Regions from separate parts of the Homo sapiens genome. Here region 1 is linked to region 2. The links come from fine-mapping of genetic effects on gene expression. Tissue or cell type: whole blood. Region 2 holds a variant in brackets; the other region holds the start of a gene. All regions are shown on one strand. Distances are between the middles of the regions.

Evidence for each region. PIP is the estimated chance that this variant, and not a neighbour inherited with it, causes the effect.
Region 1: MS4A14 starts here. The variant in region 2 is fine-mapped to the expression of MS4A14 in whole blood (INTERVAL, PIP above 0.99).

The regions. Positions count from the first base shown.
Region 1 is chr11:60,392,532-60,400,642 of GRCh38, forward strand. It overlaps MS4A14 (membrane spanning 4-domains A14), which reads left to right and starts at 3,928. Exons shown (of 5, transcript NM_032597.5): 1 at 3,928-4,185; 2 at 5,321-5,449; 3 at 7,873-7,923. The coding sequence starts at 4,048. MS4A7 (membrane spanning 4-domains A7) reads left to right here. Exons shown (of 7, transcript NM_021201.5): 6 at 154-255; 7 at 1,256-3,417. The coding sequence ends at 1,330.
Region 2 is chr11:60,367,225-60,375,335 of GRCh38, forward strand. No RefSeq gene overlaps it. Among named protein-coding and RNA genes, the nearest start is that of MS4A7, 7.3 kb to the right of the region's middle. RefSeq lists an enhancer at 383-889. The variant A/G (reference allele first, on the strand shown) is at 3,504.

The DNA.
Region 1 (8,111 bases), 25 kb after region 2:
AGAAATCTGAAAAAGAAAGCAGAAAAGAGGATTAAGCAATTTTCCCTGTCTCCTTTTCTCTGCATTGCTGGAGCCTCATCGCCCTGTCTCCTCTTAGCCAGGCACAAGGGCTAGCTTGTCTTGGGTACCAGCCATTCATGTCCTGATTTGCAGGGTGTCCTAGTGGTGATGCTCATCTTCACTGTGCTGGAGCTCTTATTAGCTGCATACAGTTCTGTCTTTTGGTGGAAACAGCTCTACTCCAACAACCCTGGGGTGAGTATGCTGACATGTCGCCTGATACCTGCTGTGTCTCAGGTCCAGGCTACAATAATCCAACCTCAAAAAGTGGCAAAAAGAAGAATCAATTATTGTTCATGAGGTGCATGTGGAAGGCCACTTTTATAATTAAAAAAATGAGTTTAACAGTGAAACCCCATCTCTACTAAAAATATGAAAAACTAGCCAGGTGCAGTGGCACACGCCTGTAGTCCCAGCTAGTTGGGAGGCTGAGGCAGGAGAATTGCTTGAACCCAGGAAGTGGAGGTTGCAGTGAGCTGAGATCACACCACTGCACTGCAGCCTGGGTGACAGAGTGAGACTCAGTCTCAAAAAAAAAAAAGAGTTTGTATAAATGGGCTCCTTCTGGAGGACACTCTGGTCATCTGGGATCAGCTGGTGTCTACTGGGAAGCAGACCAGTTAGAGAATTGCTTAATATGAAGCTAGTTGGTTTTAGAAATCACATAGCCCAACCCCTCATGAAAGAACCACGGCTTGGATAAAATTACATAGAAAATGAATGACACAGACTATTGGGCTGAGAATGAGAACGCGTATCCCCTCACTTTTATCGGGAACACAGCTACCTGCCTCCCGAGAGAGTCTCCCTAGCCAAGTTTCCTTGTTAATGTGATGAGACTTTACTAGAATGTCTCTGTCCTGTTTATGCTTCCCTGTGCTCTTCCTTACATCCCCTTAGCTCTTGATGTTATAATTTTAAAATATTTTCATTTCCCCTAAAGGCTACAACAACAAAAGAAATGTTTATAGAATTTGGATGAATTATGATTTAACTATGATCCTATTTAAAATAGTAAAATAATTAGCAGACTGGAGAATTGCATTATTTTTAATTAATATTGCTGCAATTACATATTATGGCAAAGTTGGAAGAACTAGTACTACACAAAACTTGGGGAAAAGGTATTATGAGTTATCTTTTTTAATCTCCGAAATCAAAGTTTAAAAATTCTAACCAATTATGTATTTTCTAGAGTTCATTTTCCTCGACCCAGTCACAAGATCATATCCAACAGGTCAAAAAGAGTTCTTCACGGTCTTGGATATAAGTAACTCTTGGCCTCAGAGGAAGGAAAAGCAACTCAACACTCATGGTCAAGTGTGATTAGACTTTCCTGAAATCTCTGCCATTTTAGATACTGTGAAACAAACTAAAAAAAAAAAAGCTTTTGTTTTGTATTTGTTTACTATGAGTCGTTATTTAATTTCTCTTGAAAATAATTTCCTCAAAGCCCAAGTCAATAAATGTTATCAGCCAGTCTTCCAAAATGGTCATAAACTTTATAAACTGCTTTGGGTAAACTGAGCAGAAGGTGATACACAGAAGGGAAAATGTGCACTCATGCTAGTGTGAATTTGGTAAGTTGCGTGACTCTGCAGGCTGTTTCTGTATTATTTTCACACTCATATTGCTTAAATATTACATATTAGGGATTGTAAGAAAACTTTAATTAAAAATTAAAGACTATATATAATTAAACTACTCTGCCCTGGACACTCTCTGAGAAACAGATCTACTGGGCCCTTTTTCATGAGCCATTAGGTGGAAGACAGCAAAGAGATCTTCTCAAGTGCTTAGGATTACCTCTCAACACACAGCAAGCATGTCCCTGCCTCCCATGAATCTTACCATGTAAATCCAAATCTCTGCAATCCTGTGGCACCAACCAGTGGTGCTCATTCTATTGTTTAAAAATGGCCTTCTTGGCTGGGCGCGGTGGCTCACTCCTGTAATCCCAGCACTTTGGTAGGCCGAGGTGGACGGATCACCCGAGGTCAGGAGTTTGAGACCAGCCTGGCCAACAAGGTGAAACCCTGTCTCTACTAAAAATACAAAAAATTAGCCAGGCATGGTGGTGCGCACCTGTAGTTCCAGCTACTTGGGAGGCTGAGGCAGAAGAATCACTTGAACCCGGGAAGGGGAGGTTGCAGTGAGCGGAGACTGCACCACTGCATTCCAGCCCGGCCTACAAGAACAAAACTCCATCTCAAAATAAATAAAAAAATAAATAAAAATAAAAATAGACTATATATAGTCTTTGAATTCATTTATTTTAAATAAATGAATAAAATAAAATAAAAAAGAATATTCAGTCGTTGGCACATAAACTATGTTCTCTTCTGTCATTTCAGGGTAGGAGTCAATGAAGACATCTTAGTCTTAACAAGTTACAGATAATCTCTGACTGGCATGTTTTCTGCTTCTAGCTTGGAGCTAAATGCTGCTCATGCTGAAAAGAATAATGTCTATTTCTTTGTTTGGGTATTAGCTCTATTTTGATCTATAGCACAGTTTTGTAATTCAGATCATCACCCCTGCACTTTGTACCACATGGGCGTATTCTTTCTTCCCAGTCATTGCTGCAATTATCTTGTCTGTTCTTTGTGTAATATGTTCTGTGTGAGCCTCTGCATTAAACTCGATTTCTTGGGCAATTATGGAAATTCCAGTGTGGCTGCAGTTTAACTTTGCACTCTCTATGCATATGAGGTTTCCTAAATAAATGAGGAGTAGCATAGTTTAAAATATATATATCTTATAACTTTCTACAACAAAGAATTATTGAGTCCAAATGTCATCAGTGCTCATTTTGAGATACCCTGCTATCGATGGTCGCTACAAACCAGGAAATACTCAAGTTATTATGTGTATACATTGGTTTTAGTTTTATGAAACAATTTACCTTCATGATCTCATAGTTAAAATTGTAATAAATTTAGGAATATAAAGGATCAATATGGGAAGCAAAATTTCTAAAGGCAGTTTCTGTTGTTTTAATTAGTATTTGTGTAGTTCAAACCAGGAAGGATTTGACTATCATTAGATTTTGCTTAACTTTATGAAAGCTAAAATATTCTCTGTTATAAAGGGGCAACTCCATCTGGTCCTATAGCATCTTTACTACTGATTTTTTTTTGTTTAATTTGAAAATGCAAAGAATTGTTAAATGTTCTTAAATGTTCTCACTACAAAAAAAGAAAAAAGATAACTACGTGAGGTGATGGATATGTTAATTAGCTGGATTGTGGTAATCATTTTGGAATGTATATGTATATCAAAACATGTAGTACACCCTAAATATATATAATTTTTATTTGTCAAATATACCTCAATAAAGATGGAAAAAAATCGAAATTCAAAGTTATCTACTGATTTTTATAATACAGAGAAATATGGTTAAACAGTAAGTTAGAAAATTCATCAAGTAAAAGAAACTCCTTTCAAAGGAGGGCAGAAGCGTGGCTGAGTTTAAAAAACATAGATTTTGGAGACAGGTCAAGTTGAGTTTGCCCCTTCCCTGTCCTGTATGTCTTTGGGTGACATAACCTTGCTGTTCCTCAGTTTCAGTATTGTAGAACTGTTAAAAGAATAAATGTTAGTGCATGTCAACACCTTCTACACAGTTCCCAGAACATAAGGAATATTCCATAAGTTTTAGTTCCTTTATAACTCATGAACATATGTGTAAGGACTTGTTTCGTATATACCATCTATTCTTTGTTTACCATATGTTTGTAAGCAAATTGACAAGAGAGTAAGTCTTCTGGATACAGTACTTTTCACCAGGAAGATGGGGGGCTGAGCATGCTCTAGAATTCTAAAACTCTGTGACTCAACTATGATTCTGAGATTCTACTACTGAGTAGAGTCATCACTAAGGGCTCATCTCTGAGGGCTCCATGTGACTCTGGTGGAGAGGTAGATCATGATTTGGGCGGCAATGTTTGCTCACTCTTTCCCTTACTAGAGTTCTGCCATAGAATCATGGAGTCAACATCCCAGGACAGAAGGGCAACTCACGTCATCACTATAAAACCAAACGAAACTGTATTGACTGCATTTCCCTACAGACCTCATAGCTCTCTGCTGGATTTTCTGAAGGGAGAGCCAAGAGTCTTGGGGGTAAGTCCTCTCCAGTCAATAGGTCTTCCAGAAGGGGAGAAAAGAAGTTTATTTATTCATGTATGTCTGCAGAGATATGCAGAGATTATTTTCAGGGAGGGAGTTAATTCTACTTTTCCCCCTTCACCTTACATGAGAAATTAGTACTGATCTTTGAATCCCAGCAGAGGGGGAAGCAAGAAACTAGTATAACTTTTTAAAATATCTCATTGAGGAAGTGACTTCAGGGTGTGGTGGCACCTCCCTTGAAGCTAAGAAACCATAAGTGGAGAGGTTTGACTTCCCCTTCATGCTCTTAAAGGAATTGGGAGTGCTTCAAAACCCATATTCAAAGCTCCACAGTGAACCAAATGATAAGGCATGCAAAACGTTTTTCATCACAAATGCACCCAGGGGAGAGCTGTATGCACAGCCTCCATCCTTTGTACAACAGCAAAAATCATTACTTGGTGTGCCACAGCCCAGAGATGTGGCCTGGGGACAAAATCTAGACTGCCAGAGAAGTTGCGCCCTGAGAACCACTGCTGCTATTCTTTTCCCTGCAGATTCCTACAAGCTGATAGGCCCACTGGGCTATTCTCATCCCTAGTTGGGTCCATGGATGAAGGGGAGGTGAAATGCAAGCTCATCCCAGGTTCTCCACTCTATGTCATCAAACTTTTTAAATTTTTAGACAACTGGGATGAGCCCCAATTCCAAAAGCCTATACTGAGTGCTGGAAAATGTGGGGGTGGGGGCTGTTAGGATAATAATAGGATACTGGTGAGACAGACGAAAAAACAAATGTAAAGGTGAATAGTTTATAGTCCCTGTGCTCAAGAAGCTTATAATCTGGGGGTAGTCAGACATGTACTCAAATCTGTCTGATATAAGATTAATTGGTAACACCAGGGAAGATAGAAAATAATAAAGAATAAAAGTGAAGGATTTGAACCTGAAGGATCCAGGCAAGCAAAGTGGGAAGGAAACACATTGAACTGAGTCTCTTAACAATCTGAGAATGATTGACAAATGAGAGAGGAAGGCATTTGGATGGAGGGAAAGGTGTGCCATGGAGGCACACCCTGAGGGACGTGGGGTAGCCCACAGGGTCTTGGATACTTGTAACCTCATGTACCCATTTCTCTCCTCACAGGCTACCCAGATCCTGCTTGCTCTAATCATTGTGGGCTTTGGAACTATATTTGCACTTAATTACATCGGTTTCTCCCAAAGACTTCCCCTTGTTGTCCTCACAGGATATCCATTCTGGGGAGCACTTATTGTGAGTACTGTCGATTAGAAGCTTTGGAGAAATTGCTATAAAGATAGATTTGAACTGCTTCACGTCCTAGGGTAATGAATTCCATAAATATGGCCCTCCAGGAGACCAAAAAAGGCAGCTCCCTTCACGGCAAAAGAAGCAACTCCATTTGGTCACTGCACTACCATCATCATTGTAATAACTACTCTCAGGTGCTTAAAATTTGTTTCCAAAGCCCTTGTGTGTATAGTAAGACATTTGCTCCTCAATACCAACCTGGGAGACTAGATGCACAAATATCCTACTTATTCCTTTGCAAATAAGGAAACTGAGCTCAAAAGTAGAGAATAACTTAAACATATCTAGCCTAGCTAGCACTCATGGAATCACAGACTCTGAAAGCTTAAAAAGAATTTTAAAATTATTATCACTCATCCTCCTTCTTAGCCCCAGAGACAACTTTATGAGTGGCACTCATCTAGATAATCATATAGCCATAAATATTATTCTTAATACAGTGCTATTTCTATCCAATCCCCACAGCCTGGATTCCTAATTTTGTGCCATAATATTTAAGGACAGACTCATTAGAGCTTCTCCTACTATAACATACACTCCTGAGAAGACAGCAGTGTTACTGTCTGTTTTAGTTGTTATATTCTGAGAACCTAGAATCATGCTTGAGGCATAGTGTGCATGAACGAACGAATGAATCAATCAATCAATCAATCAACAAATAGGTGAAATAATTAATAAATTAGGCCACTATCTCTGACTATTAAAAATCCACAGTCTCTTTTGATAAACAGAAATACTCCATGCCTTTTCTATAATGTGCATTTCAGAAACAACCAGCAGTGTTTTCATTTTCCCAATATAAATAATGTAATATTCAATATGATTTTCAAACTATACATGCCATACTGTAGAAAATCAAACAGACCAACCCCTCACTTTCTCATTTCACAACAGAATTGTCCCAGTGTGACTTTGTGTACTCTGCATGTGTGAATTAAAATGAGATTCTGGCATGCTGCTTTTGAAAACTCTACTTTTCACTTAAAAGATATTTACTGAGCACATACCGCGTCTTCAATGGCATCCTAGGTGCTGAGACTGAGAATACTGGAAAACAGCTCCTCTCTGAGAGAAGTGGTGAATTGTTCTTAGATTTAGACAGTTTGTCATCTAACTGGGAGACTAGACATGAAAAAGTCAAAAGTAACCCCAAATATTTGTTCCTACACTTGTGCTAAGTGCTCTAAGAGGAGAGTTCCAGGTGCGATGTGAGGGTTTAATAGAGGACTCACCTGACCATGGAGGTCAGGCAAGTGCTTTCTGCGTAGCTGCTCACTAGGCGAAGTGGAAGGAAAGCATCCCTGGCAAAGATAAAGCATGAGCCAAGGGCTTGATGTGGGAAAGAGTAACCAAAAGAAGACCAATGAATCTATCGTGATGGCATAAAATGAGGCTATAAAGGTAGGGTGTAACCAGGTCGTGCCAACCCCTATAGTCATGTTAAGAAAATGGAACTTCAATGTGAAAGCATGGGAAAGCCACTGAACGTTTTTAAAGAGGATAGTGACACTTGAAGACTTGTTGAAGTATCATTGTGTTTTTAGAGTGAGAAATTAATTCAATTATAACAGTAAACCTAGGAGAATCCAATGAGAGGAGGCTACAAACACACAGATGAGGAAAGAGTTTCCCGAACTAGCTTGGTGGCAATGGAGCTAGAGATGGAGAGCCTTGAGAGTGACTCGGAGGTAGAAGTGACAGGACTTGGCAATCCAATGTGGGGAGTGAAGCGGAGGGAGGTATCAAAGGTAACTTTCTGATCTCTGCAAGTCAGCTGCAGATCCTTGGACTCTAAGACCCAGATGTCCCCAAGGTCCAAGGCCAGTTCCCACAGAGAAGGTTCCCATCCCCAGAACATTAAAAAAGTAAGGGACTCCACATGGAGTGACAGAGTTCTCATTTTCCTGAGGTGGTACTAGGCTCTACGATCATGGGAAATGAGGGACTCTGATAACTACACTAGATATCAGTCCCCATATCAGCCTTTAGAGGGGTCTTCCTTGAGAAAGTCTCCCTTCACCTGCTCAGAACAGGCACAGCTCCTCCTCTTCTCTTCAAGGCCCAGAGCTCAGGAATCTCTTTTTGGAGCCCCAGCCGGATCAAACATCTGGTCCTCTGGATCTTAGAGGAGCCTGCCTGTCCCAGTTGGCCCTGGCAGAGAGCGCTTGTTCAGTGCTGAGCAAATCCAGCACAAAGTTTCTTCCTACCCTACCTACGCCTACCTTCCCTACTCCCTGATGCTCAGGTGGAAAAACGGGATGGTCTTGGAGATTCACAAACAGATATTTTGCAAATCCAAGGGAAATTATACTGCAAGGTGGTCAAACACATCACCTGTTAACTTTTGTCTCTTGTCTTCTTAACAGTTTATTCTTACAGGATACCTCACAGTAACCGATAAGAAATCAAAACTTCTGGTAAGCCACTTAAACTACATAAAATTTAAAATCTTCTATTTGTTTTATATCATCTTTATGTATGAAGCCTTTAGTAATAAAGTTACCTTTCAGGAAAATCTGTATGCATCAAAGTTGCAGTTCAGATCATTCCTATTTGCCAGTGCCACTGTTTGCCTGACAGACATTCTTACACTTGTTCCCATTTC
Region 2 (8,111 bases):
AAAGAGGTTTCATAATAGTTATGCAAATTGAAGACTGAAGACTAGCAGTCTTCAGTCTTTAGGCTGGGAAAGTGAGTTGTTTAAAACAAGTCCTGTTGTTTATAATCACTTACCAGTTTCGGTCAACTGAATCAGCTGCAGTGAGAAAAAACATTCAGTTTTGATTTGTTTCCTAAAAATATTTTCCTTTTATACTCAAAATTAGTTGCTAACCAAAATTAAAGAAAAAACTTGAGCAATACATTTTGTTTTCTAAATGCCACTAAAATTTTATATGATATAGGAGTGTGTGTATGTGTAAAAATGAAAAATAAAATGTTTCCAAATGCGTTTTAGTAATATCAACAAAAAGATGGCAAAGTTGTTTCATTCCCATTCTCTGCTACCATCTGGTTTAAGAAAATACTTAGAAATTTGTTCAAGTCATAAAGGTATCATTTTGAGAGACAGGACTAGCTGGATTTCCTAGGCCAACTAAGAATTCCTAAGCCTAGCTGGAGAAGGTGACGGTACCCACCTTTAAACACAGGTCTTGTAACTCAGCTCATACACGACCAATCAGGTAGTAAAGAGGGCTCACTAAAATACAAATTAGGCTAACAGCAGGAAGTAAAGAAATAGTCAAATCATATATTGCCTGAGAGCACAGTGGGAGGGACAATGATCGGGATATAAACCCAGGCATTCGAGCAGGGAGCGGCAACCCCCTTTGAGTCCCCTCCCTTGTAAGGGAGCTCTGTTTTCATTCTATTAAATCTTGCAACTGATTGCTCTTCTGGTCCGTGTTTGTTCTGGCTGGAGCAGAGCTATCGCTTGCGTCCACCACTGCAGTTTGCCGCCGTCGCAGAACCACCGCTGACTTCTACCCCTCCGGATCTGGCAGGGTGTCCCCTGCGCTCCTGATCCAGCGAGGCGCCCATTGCCCCTAAAGGCTCGCTATTGTTCCTGCACGGCTAAGTGCCCGGGTTCGTCCTAATCAGGCTGAACACTAGTCACCAGGTTCCACAGTTCTCTTCCGTCATCCACGGCTTCCAATAGAGCTATAACACTCACAGCATGGCCCAAGCTTCCATTCCTTGGAATCCGTGAGGCCAAGAACCCCAGGTCAGAGAACAAAAGGCTTGCTGCCATCTTTGGAGCAGCCCACCACCATCTTGGGAGCTCTAAGAACAAATATTTTCAGATAAATCTTTGAGTAAGTTCACAATTGGGTTATCTGAAATATGCAAGGAATCCTGTTCACCAAGATAAATCCACACACTCCAATAGAAATTATCTTGCAAATTCAATGTCGATAGTTGACATGGTTAGGCATGGTGTCCCCATCCAAATCTCATCTTGAATTGTAATCCCCAAGTGTTTAGGGAGAGACCTAGTGGGAGGTGATTAGATTATGGGGACAGTTTCCCCTATGCCCATTCTTGTGATCATGAGTGAATTCTCATAAGATCTGATGGTTTTCTAAGCAGTAGTTTTTCCTGCACTCTCACACACTGTCTCCTGCCACCATGTGAAGAAGTCCCTTGCTTCCCCTTTGCCTTCCGCCATGATTGTGTTGTAAATTTCCTGAGGCTTCCCCAGCCACGTGGAACTATGGGTCAATTAAACCTCTTTCCTTTATAAATTACACAGTCTCAGGTATTTCTTTAGAGCAGTGTGAAAACAGAGTAATATAATAGTCAACATAATTTGTCTTTTTATTATCTGATCTCCCCATTTTTCTTATAAAAGAATGATTACTTTATTGAGAAGTGGGACTCTGCACAATTAAGAGATGATATTTCCCAGCCTTCTTTGTATATAAAAATGGCAGTGTGACATAGCTCTCGCTAATGAGACCTAAGAAGAATTTTGCTGGAATTTGTGGGAATGGGCTAATTTCTTATTTAGGCATAGCCCTTCCTCTCCCTTCTACTGCTCTCCTCTCACCACCGTCCTTCTTTTCCTTCTTGTTCTTCATAGTCTTTCAAAAGAAAAGGCAAATAGAAAGCTGACAATGGATTATCCAACTTGTTACCATACAGCTCCCATGGAGATGAAAGCTCACCTTATGGAGAACTGAGCACAAAAACCTGAGAATCTGAAAACACTGATGATACTGAAATGGCCATTGCAAAATTCTGGCTGAGAGCATTATTACAGTGAAAGAGATCTGACCTAACCAACTTCACCTTGCTTCTAACCTCCAAGCCATCCTTGTTCATTCCTGGGCCTAGGCCAAACTAACTTTGGGAGGAACTTAATTTACAGTTTGAAACAAAGACAATATCTCCTTTCCAAAACAAGACCCCTTCCTGCCTGGGGTCTAGACTGCCTTTGTAGGAGTAACCAATTAGCCACACAATTAGAAATTATGGTTTAGGAGTCATATAGCTGGAGGCTGCGAAGTTCTCACCCTCCCCAGTCGCTCCTGGGGATAACATCACTATTGTAAAACCTAAGATCAGTGCTTCGGATATTTTGCAGACCCTGCAATTGATGGATCAGCTGGTACCACCCACATTAATAAACTGGCTCATCTGGGTCCTGTGGCCCCCACTCAGAAACTGACTAAGTGCAAGAGGGCAGCTTTGATTCCCTGTGATTTTATCTTCGACCCAAGCAATCAGCACTCCCAACTCACTGGCCCCTTACTCACCAAATTATCCTTAAAAAACCTAATCCCTGAATCTTTGGGGAGACTGATTTGAGTAATAATAAAAGTCTAGAGGGTCTCCCATAGAGTCAGCTGTGCATGAATTAAACTCTCTCTATGGCAATTCCCCTGTCTTGATAAACTGGCTCTGTCTAGGAACTGGGCAGAGAGAACCCACTGAGCGGTTACAATATCGTAGGTCTTGTTAATTAGCTCTAGACAGTTTCCCTAGACTTCTTGAAAAAGCCTGCATTTCTAACTGGTGAAGCTTTGGCATTAAGGAATGCAATCTCAAATTGATATACTAATCTAGGTATTTTTAGAAATAATGTAATTGTACAAATGAGCAAATAAACTTCAAGTTATTCTAATATTAAAAGTGAGGTTAAAATTGTTTTCACTAATAATTACCTCAGTCACCTTTCCCCACCATTTAGAATGCACCATTTGTTTAATGCTATAGCTGGGATTACCTTAAAAATCTCCTGGTTTTATTGATTTCTAGTATTTAATGGGTGAAGAAATTAATCTACAGAAAGCCATAGTGACTCACCCAGATTTATGATTCAGACTTAGAGTTTATAAGTCCAAGACCAACATTGTTTCTTATATGCTGTGTTGCCTACAGGGGTCCATAGTACCTGTTCTCTACCATTTATTGTCAATACTCAGCAGAACTATTAATACCTCAGGGAAGCAAGATTAGTAAATAATGGAATATGTATCAGCATTGCAAACATGAGCTATTTCATGAAGGCCAGGGTGAGAGCATTTCATCAGCTTGGATTCTCAAGGTCTCATAAATGCTTTAATTTGTAACTGCATCAACATGTCTTATGGTGATGCTGGACATCAGTGTAACACAGAC[A/G]TAGACAATTACCTTCAAATCCAATTATCGGGGAAGCCAAAGGTTTACCTAGGAAATATTACCTTTGCCAGGACTAGGAACGTCTCAGTTTGTTTTTGTGAAGCCTTCGTGATTGGCACAATATGAGTTTAAAGTATGGAGAACCGGATTCGGTTTCTAGCTTGTACAATTAACAGCTGTGTAAACAATGACTCACTCAAGAATTTTGTCAGCAGAGTATTATTTGTATTGGGTTTTGTTTGTGGGGATTGTTTTGTTTGCATATATATTTGTGTATTTTATGTGGTTTTGAGGGGCATGGGGGTTCTGCTCATCTCTGTGTGTCTACCCAGGTCTCTAGTAGTCACTTTAGCCCAGATAGATTCTTTAGCCATTAACTAAATATTGGCTTCCTAGTTTTTCACTACACATACAATAACGTACGGTAATCAGATGTGTGACTTTGCCATGTGTACATACTTCCAGAACTGCCAGTTCAAAATAAACAGACCCTCCTTGACATGGAGAATCCACATAATGTCACAGGAATGACTCACATACCTTCCAGGAAGATATGTGAGTAAAAGAAGCTCTTCTATGCTGTGGATAGTGAGCAGAGCTATAAAGAATTAAGGCTATAGAACCTATAATTTAATAAGATTTTTTTTTCTGAGTTTTCCCTGGTGGAATAAACAAAGGGAAAATGCATTTTTGTCTACCTTGGGAGGGAAAGTAACATGATTGTGAAGTCTCTTAGATTTAATGCAGCTTTGTTTGATTTCTAGATATTTCTAAGAGTTTGTTAACATTTGTAATAATAGGCACCAGAAACTTCTATGGGAAAAAAGGGAAAACGTGAACAAAAAAAGGAACTATGGCATTTTCACTGAGGAAGTAAAGCGTGATCTGGAGAAATAAAAAACAGACAAACACATATTGGTCCCAGGCCAGTTTTAAGAAACCCTTTTATACTAAGCCCTTTTTAACAGAAAGTGTTAATAGTATTCAATTTTTTTAAAAAAAGAAGGAGAACTCATAAAATTCACTTAGCTCTCCTAATTACGGCAAATTATTGGAACAAATTGTTTTGTTAAATTCAATCAGTCTTAGGTCTTAGAGACGCTACAAATGGGATTATCTTATGGACAAATGTGACAGAAATGGGATGGGAACTTGAAGAATATAATGATTTCTGAGGATCAGGAAAGTGGAATTAAGTCCTTCTGATTTCGAGAAATTACTGGGCAATAGTGCAGATCAGCTGCTGTTGGGAGATAGAAATCATTGCAATTTTAATAGGCTAAGATCAGTGGTAGTGCAAAGGAGGGCATAGGATGAAGCAAACTTTATAGATATAAAATGCAAACCTATAAAATGGCCAGGATGTCATATTGGAGATAAAGACACCTTTGGGAGACTGTACTAGAGAGGATTAGCAAGGCACCTGTTGTGGTTACACACAATCCCAGTGTCTTCTAAACCCCAGTTTAAAAGACAGTTATCTGACCTCTCTCCAAGTTTATTACAGACTAAAGAATCACAGTTGCCTGTAAATATGTCTATGTTTGAGGAATTGAATGACTATCACTAAGAGATGGGATTCGAATTTATTGGAGCTTCCAAGAGTCTTTACAAGAATGGCAAGAATGTTGCAGGGGCCCAGGGCCGGGCACGGTGGCTCATGCCTGTAATCCAGCACTTTGGGAGGCTGAGGCGGACGTATCACGAGGTCAAGAGATCGAGACCATTCTGGCCAACATGGTGAAACCCCGTCTCTACCAAAAATACAAAAAATTAGCTGAGCGTAGTGGCATGCACCTGTAGTCCCAGTTCAGGAGGCTGGAGCAGGAGAATCACTTGAACTCGGGAGGCAGAGGTTGCAGTGAGTCGAGGAGCCAAGATCATACCACTGCACTCCAGCCTGGCGACAGAGTGAGACTCCGTCTCAAAAAAAAAAAAAAAAAAAAAAAAAAGAACATTGCAGGGGCCAAGGGTATAGCTTCCCTTTTGCCCTCTGAAGTTTCGCTGAAAAGTCAACTTGTAAAAGTCAGATTAATTGAGAAAAGGCATACAAATTATTCAACACATAGACATGAGGGCCTTCAGAATGAAGACCCAAAAAATATAGGGGAAAGTATCCATTTGTATGCTTAGGTTCAACGAAGTAAGGACAGCCCTGTAGAAATATGACTGGATATAATCTATGCTAATAGGCTTAGTTAGAACCGAGCAAGACCCGTCTGTCTAGGTTTTTCTTGGCCTCTCTGTGCTGCATTCCTTCATTTTGGTTGTAGGACAGGACCATCTCTGGAATGGGCATCTTATGACCTACAGTCAAACAAGATAGCTCAGATGATTTCTTTATGACCAGTTTTACACAGATAGAGTGGAAGGAGAGTTAGAGTAACACTTTTAGGTTTTAAGGCTGGCTGTGGCAAGAGGGGTGTCTGGTTTCTATGACCCACCTTGGGGAGGGATTCTTGTTTGTACAGCTAGCCTCAAAGGAAGATAGGACTGAGAGACAGGAAAGGAAGTCAGAGAAAAACTTTTGCTTCTGAGGTATTGTTTTGGGGTATTGTTTTCTGAGCCCCTAAATACATAATAGGTATCTTTGTCTTTGCCCTTTTTATTGTTCTTTTCCTCCTTTTTTCTCTTATGTGCCACTGTCACCATTCTCAGGTGGGCTTTCGAGAATGAATGTGCAAAATTCATGATTAGGGTCAACCACATCTCCATAGCTATGGGCCTTACAAGCATTAACTGTCTATCATTTGCATCTTCAGACTGATATTCAGAACAGTTTCAGGATTCTCACACTAGCCTAGAGAACAATTTTTTAAATAATTCCATCAACATATTGATATGGGAGAGGGGCAGGGAAGTGCTAAGTAGAGAAGGGCAGGGTCCCTGGCGAGGTTCCACCCTCGGCCTTTGCCCACAAACCCAGGTGAGGACAGGCACTCCTGTTTTCATGCCAAATGTTGCATTTCCAAGCCAGCCATGCCCCTCCTCCTGTGCCTATAAAAACCCTGATACCCTAGTGGGTATACACACACAAGTGGCTGGATGTCAAGAGGAACACACTGGCAGAAGAACACACCAACAGTTGCTGGCAGACCATCGATGGCAGAACAAAGCAGATACCAAAGGAAATTCAGCTGAGGGTGGTTGGAGGAGAGCCAGGCTGCTGAGCAGCCCTACTCCAGAGAAGACCACCTTCCCACTCCATCCCCGTTCTGGCTCCCTGTCCATCTGTTGATAACTACTATCACCACTCAATAAAACCTTGCACTCACTCTCCAAGCCCACATATGATCTGATTTTTCTGGGACACTTGGGCAAGAACCCTGGGATACAGAAAGCCCTCTGTCCTTGCGATAAGGTAGAGGGTCTAACTGAGCTCATTAAAGCAAGGTGCCTGCGGACGGCTAAGCTGAAAGAGCACATTGTAACATACACCCATTTGGGCTTCGGGAGCTGTAAACACTCAACCCTAGATGCTGCCATGGAGTCGGAGCCCACGCTCCCCATGACCTGCCCGTCTGCATGCTTCCCTTAGGGGTTTGAGCTGCGGGGCACCAAAGAAGTGAGCCACACCCCCATCACGCACCCTGCAAGGGGGATAAGGGAAAACTCCCCTCGTTTCAATATGTTAAAGCTTATTCACCCCATGAGAGCCATTTGGTTGGTAGGCTATTAATTATTGCCTCAATTTCAGAGCCTGTTATTGGTCTATTCAGGGATTCAACTTCTTCCTGGTTTAGTCTTGGGAGGGTGCATGTGTCCAGGAATTTATCCATTTCTTCTAGATTTTCTAGTTTATTTGTGTAGAGGTGTTTATAGTATTTTCTGATGGTAGTTTGTATTTCTGTGGGATTGGTGGTGATATTCCCTTTATCATTTTTTATTGCTTCTATTTGATTCTTCTCTCTTTTCTTCTTTATTAGTCTTGCTAGCAGTCTATCAATTTTGTTGATCTTTTCAGAAAACCAGCTCCTGGATTCATTAATTTTTTGAAGAGTTTTTTGTGTCTCTATCTCCTTCAGTTCTGCTCTGATCTTAGTTATTTCTTGCCTTCTGCTAGCTTTTGAATGTGTTTGCTCTTGCTTCTCTAGTTCTTTTAATTGTGATGTTAGGGTGTCAATTTTAGATCTTTCCTGCTTTCTCTTGTGGGTATTTAGTGCTATAAATTTCCCTCTACACACTGCTTTAAATGTGTCCCAGAGATTCTGGTATGTTGTGTCTTTGTTCTCGTTGGTTTCAAAGAACATCTTTATTTCTGCCTTCATTTCTTTATGTACGCAGTAGTCATTCAGGAGCAGGTTGTTCAGTTTCCATGTAGTTGAGTGGTTTTGAGTCAGTTTCTTAATCCTGAGTAAAATGCTATTCTTAACATCAGTTCTGTTCCATTGGTCTATTCACCTTGTTACTAGGCTTATTACTAGGACTATGTAGTATGCTTCCTCACTGTTCTATTTGAACATTCTAGGAGAATGAAAACACCATAGAGGAAGGTGGTTTTTTCTGTTCTGTCCATTGATGCAATCCAAGCACCTAGAACACAGCCTGGCACAGAAGAAGCACTCAAACTGTGGTATTTCAATGAAAAGTGAGGAATATTTTTCATGT